2 separate regions of the Homo sapiens genome follow, and region 2 is linked to region 1. A link means that fine-mapping ties the variant in region 1 to the expression of a gene that starts in the linked region. Tissue or cell type: whole blood. Region 1 holds a variant in brackets; the other region holds the start of a gene. All regions are shown on one strand. Distances are between the middles of the regions.

Evidence for each region. PIP is the estimated chance that this variant, and not a neighbour inherited with it, causes the effect.
Region 2: C10orf143 starts here. The variant in region 1 is fine-mapped to the expression of C10orf143 in whole blood (TOPMed, PIP above 0.99).

Annotation. Positions count from the first base shown.
Region 1 is chr10:130,062,460-130,065,211 of GRCh38, reverse strand. C10orf143 (chromosome 10 open reading frame 143) reads left to right here. Exons shown (of 4, transcript NM_001355042.2): 4 at 829-1,316. The coding sequence ends at 858. Among named protein-coding and RNA genes, the nearest start is that of C10orf143, 47 kb to the left of the region's middle. The variant T/C (reference allele first, on the strand shown) is at 1,171.
Region 2 is chr10:130,109,473-130,112,224 of GRCh38, reverse strand. C10orf143 (chromosome 10 open reading frame 143) reads left to right here and starts at 1,395. Exons shown (of 4, transcript NM_001355042.2): 1 at 1,395-1,521. The coding sequence starts at 1,453. It overlaps LOC102724883 (a long non-coding RNA gene), which reads right to left and starts at 932. Exons shown (of 3, transcript NR_188169.1): 1 at 109-932. RefSeq lists enhancers at 91-220, 701-1,030, 1,891-2,070, 2,231-2,340 and a silencer at 1,321-1,700.

The DNA.
Region 1 (2,752 bases):
TCTCCTGTCTGGTCCCTGTGGGTCAGGGCAGCCCCTGCCTTCCAGGAAGCAGGGACATCATCAAGAACTGGACTTCTTTGTTTCCCCACTGCCCAGCCTACCCCACCCTTCCTGGGCTGCAGCCAGCTCAGGAGCCTGTTGCCCTGATGGTGGAGTCCTTTCAGGACAGGGAGGCTGTGCCTGTCTCTGCCTGTGGGCCAGAGTGCCACGCTGCTATGTGCCAGGATATGTGGCCAAGTGTGACAGAGATTCCTAGATGCTGACGAGCCTCTCATTGCACAGTGGTACAGTGTCTGGCCAACTGTCTATCCCCAGCCATCTGGTTCTCCCAGTTACTTCTGCGGGTGAAGGTGAGGAGATGAGAGGCCTGCTCTAGGAAATGGGTTGGGGGCCGGAGGGGCCCTGGTGGGGATTGCCGTGAGCCTCTCTTACTCCCGGATGTCCCTGGTGAGAGGAGCCACTTTTGTGTTGCTTTTGTGCTGAATCCTGATTCAATATTTAGACATTTTTTTAAAAATTTATTTTATGAATATATGAATAGTATTTTCATTCTCTTGCTATTCCTCAAAGTACTATAGGAAAGAAGGGAAGTAACATTTATTGAAAGTCTTCTGTGTACCAGTCACTACTGGAAATGCTTTAAATATCTTAATTATAATGTAATATATATTAATATATCTATAAACAGATACCTCAGGAATTAAGTTATCACTTACAAGTAGTCATTTTAAATGTAGTGCTTTGTGTTGGCAAATGTATATATAGCCAAGGTGTATTAATTTGGCCAAGGTAAATTAATTCCCGCAATGTGCTGTTTTATCTTTGTAGGGACATTTTAGCCATACCAAGAATCATTAGAAGATGCAAGCTGGAAAAAAGAAGGTCCCAGTTTTGGTTTTGAACCCTTCATGTTGCAGCAAATGTGAATCTCCTACAGATGGGTTTGGGGACTTACCTGTTCAAATAGCAGCCCGGTGTCCTCTGTGGGTGGGGGGAGGTTTGTCTGTCCTTTCATTCTAGTAAATCCACCATCCTCTGCACGAGAGCCAGGAGAATCCACATCACTTCAAAAGAGCCCCCAAATCCTTACTACGTACTACAGCCTCCTTTCGAATGTTCCTGGTTGAGAGGGAGATCAATTGCATTATTTACAAGTCAAAAAATTTTGTA[T/C]CAAACTTCCTATGAGCTTGGGCACTCATGGCCTATGGAGGCCCACCCAGACGCAGCCCCGCCATCATGCTTTTTCGTTGTTTTGTGGATGTACCCAGGGCTATTTACACACTCTTTCATTAAAAGGCTTATTTTTATATTTAAAATGTTCTAATCTTGGAGTGAATTTTACTAAATGCTAGTGTCCAATCTGTTCCCCAACTGAAGTTATCAGAGACAGAATCCCTTTTATATTCAAGTGGAAATTACTCATTTTCTCTTGGGTTTTCAATGTATCGTCTGACTGTGAGGCTGGCATTATTTTCTCTGGGTTTGAAAGCTTCCTGAGATGTCCTGTTTGTAAGCTCCTGTCCGCATCACGTTATCTGCAGGGAATGTGCTCCCTCCAGGGAGTGTCCTCGGCACTGATGTGGGAAGAGCCCCCTCTATAAGTCATCATGGCATTCGGTCATGGGAGAGTTCCATACGGGAAAGATGGAGCAGAGGAAGACAAGGTGTTGAAACCAGTACAGCACCACCTGGGATATGGATGATCCAGAATTACAGGACACGTCTTCATTAAGCCTGGGTAAGATCCCAGAGCTATGACTCGATCAAAAAATGCCAGTTCGTGCCAAACAACCAAAGCCGGGAAAGAGGGAGAAGGTATTGGCGTTTGTAGCCTTACGAAAGATCTTTATGAAGAGCTTTAGTTTGTTCTTCTCTTTTCCAAAATGAGATACACGTCTAATTTTTACGGGAAAAAAAGAAAACTCTTAGATGGACAGCATGTTCTTTTTTGTGTGTAAACTCTTCCTTCTCACCCTCGTTCATGGAGAGAGCAGGTGTCCACCCGGTGTCAGGTGGGTGTTTTGTAGCTGACGTGGCACGCGTCCCTCCAGCTGTTCATACGAAGCTGGCTTTTGTAGAGAACAGTCCCCGGGCATCCTCCTGCCCCAAGGAAAATGCCCCCGCTTCAGAGTCAGACAGACGTGAGTTCCCATCTCATCTCCACCGACCATCTCCACCTGACCTTGATGAGTCCTTAGACTTCTTGGAGCCTCTGGTTCCCATCTGTGTGGTGGGGAGGTTGCCCTTGGGGTTTGCCCTTAGCCCACAGTGTGACTCCTCAGTGTCAGTGCCCTCCCTCCTGGTACACAGCCCCTCCACCCCAAAGCAGGCCTTCGGTTCTGGAAAAGCAAAGCTCACAAAACCTGATGACCCAGGTGACAAGGACGAAAGGGATGAGGTGTAACTGGCCAGAATGTGGGTGTATTAGGGTTCTCTAGAGGGACAGAATAGGATAAGTGTATATGTGAAGGGGAGTTTATTAAGGAGTATTGACTTGCATGATCACAAGGTGAGGTCCCACAATAGGCCGTCTGCAAGCTGAGGAGCAAGGAAGGCAGCCTGAGTCCCAAAACCTCAAAAGTAGAGAAGTCGATAGTGCATCCTTCAGTCTGTGGCTGAAGGCCCAACAGCCCTTGCAAACCACTGGTGTAAGTCCAAGAGTCCAAAAGCTGAAGAACTTGGAGTTCGATGTTCAAGGGCAGGAAGCATCCAGCACGGGAGAAAGAGGAAGCCTGGAAGACTCAGCCAGTCT
Region 2 (2,752 bases), 47 kb before region 1:
GAGGGAGATTAACTATTTAATTTGCTGAGGATCATGCAGCAAATAGCCCGAAGAGGGATTCATGCGTTTCACCATAATGGTTAAGAACAGGGCTTTGTCAAAGGATACCTTCAACTGCAGCAGAATGATGGACTCAAATCACAGAGACACGACAAAGTGACGGGTAGTCAGCTGTGGGTTGGTTCAGAGGCTCAGGCTGTTCCGGCTCTAGGTGATTTCCTGCTTTCCTAGGGTTCCCACCAGCTGCCCTCATGGTGACAAAAAGGCTGCTGCAGCTCCAGGAAACTTACACTGGGCAAGGACAACAGGAAGAAAACAGCCCCCACCCACCCAACTCCCCTTTTAACTAGAAGATCTTTCCCGAAACTCTGCCTCAACAGACCTCGCTTACTTCTCCCTGGCCCGTACTAGGTCGTGTACCCATCGTTAGCCAATCGCTGGCAACGGATTGGCCCCGTTTTAATTTATCCAAAAAAGGCGCCAGTCTGGGCTGTTTGGAGCAGTCAAGGGAGCTCCGTGCTAAGGCAGGAGGGGCCTGGACATGCGGCTGCAGGAGTCCGGGCCTCGGTGCCCTAAGATGAGGGCTCAGTGGTGCTCAGCACCGCGCCGGGCCAGAGACTGAGCCGCCGCCGGCTGTTGAGGGTTGGTTGGCTGAATCCCCGGCAGGGGCCAGGCGGAGCGAACATCACCGCGGCAACTGCCTCCACAGCACACACTCCCGACAGTGGCTGCGCTTTTCCCCTTCAGCACAGCCCAAAGGCCCCGGCAGCTCAGCACCTGCGACCTCCTAGTGCCCTCCAGCCTACGGAGGAGTAGAAGTCCTTCCGGGGCCTCCCAACCAGCAGCCACCAGCCACCAGCCACAAAAGCCGTGAGCCGCGCGGGGCTGGCCTGAAAGCTCTGCGTCTTCCCACCGCGGCAACAGCAGCTCCCACCCGGAAGCGAGGCAGCCCTGCGGACCACAACTCCCAGAAACACCCGCTGTCTCGCTCAAGCTAATTGACCCGCTGCGCCATCTATTAGCCAACCAGCCACAGGGAGACGGCTCCCCACGAGGCCTAACAACCAATCATAAGACAGAGGAGGCGGGCGCTCCTCCAGCCGATCCACGGGGTGTTGTCAAAAGTTTGGCGGGATCCTGAAAGAATGCTTTCTTTAGAGCCCCACGGCTGCTCCTGTGAAGGGAGAAGCGACAAGCAGAGATATGCAGGGACCTCTCTGCGAAGTAATGACTTGGGGCAGACGGACAACGCCCACAGCATCCCAATAGTCTCAGAAGACTCTGGTCTCTGCTACTCCTGCCTGCGGTCCTCGCCTTGGTGCTCTCGCGCTTCCCGCGGCGTCCCGCCCCTCCCTCTCCTTATTGGCTCCCCAGGGCCTTGTGCGGAAGGGGGCGTGGTGCGCGGGCCTCGGCCAGGCCTGAGATGCCGGGAGGGTTTGACCCTGGGGCTGCATGGACAGCTTAGCGCTCGGCCGCTGGCGACAGCGGAGGGCGGAGGATCTGCAGGTTCCGGGGGACGTGGTGAGCCCCCGGGGCCTGGGCGTTAGGGACGGGAGGGCGGATGGCCCCTGGGCGGGTTCCCACCGCGCCTCGTTTTTGCCGGCGCGGCCCTGCCTGTGAGGAGGCCTGGCCCAAGACACTCGCACGCTCGCGTACGTCCCTGGGAGGGCGTGGCCAGTGATGGGCGTGGCCTGTTAGGGCGGGGTTGTGACGCCGCTCTCCCGGTTTCGCGCCTGCGCGGTCGGGCGCGGAGCTCGGGCACCTTCCTGACCCACACGCTCACTGGGGCTCCAGACCCAGGCTCCCTAAAACATGGGCCGAGACTCATTGCAGGACCTCGGGTGCTTGGTATCCGTGTCATGTCTTCTCCTGCCGTCTACACCTGACTGTTCCTGAGTCTCGTTCACTGAGCGCCTGCCACGTGCCAGGCCCAGGGCTGGGTGTTGGGGGACGAGTACGTGGGGAGCGAACACGCGCAGAAAATTACCCGGCATTGAGCGTGTTAGTGCTTCTTGGGCTGAGTCCATTAACTGATGAGCAGAGGGTAAGATGAGATGGTAATGGGGAGACTTGCACAAGATCCCAGGGTGCGTGGGTAAGTCAGGTATGTGTGAGACTTGAAGGATGACCGGGGGTAGGCAGGATGGGAGGTGACAAAAAACAGTGTTGGAGGAAGGAGCTTAGCGTCTTAGGGGCACTGAAAGAAGTACTGCAGGATTGGAGCTGGAAGACAGAGCTGCTTGGCATTCCTGTATTTTATCTTCCACCTCTGCTTGCAAATTGGCCAGTTCTTACTTAACCTCGTTTATTTCAAAGTTCCTCGCTAGGGGCAGCAGTGAGCAGCCAACATACCGCATATTTGCTTTTTTTTTTCTTCTAGAGCTACACAGGCTTGGTAAGTGCAGGATCCGTCTTCCCAGTTAATACAGGCAGCATTTTTTTAGATGTCTTTACTGCGTAGCGGGAATGACTAGCTTTCTACCCTGCACCATCTCTTTCCTCACTACTCACTGCCTGGCCGTGAAGCCAGTACCACTTAGGTTTCTATCACAGCCGCACCCCTCCTCCAGGTACCAATTGTTATATTACTAGGGTGCAGGTTACCCCAGTAATATAGTAATAATATGGTATAGTAATGTAGTATAGTAATAGTATAGTACAGTAATATAGCAGGTTAGGGTGCTTTTGTAACCAAGAGCCTTCAAAGCACGCTGGCCCTAACAAGATGGAAGTTTGATTCTCCTGCACAGAA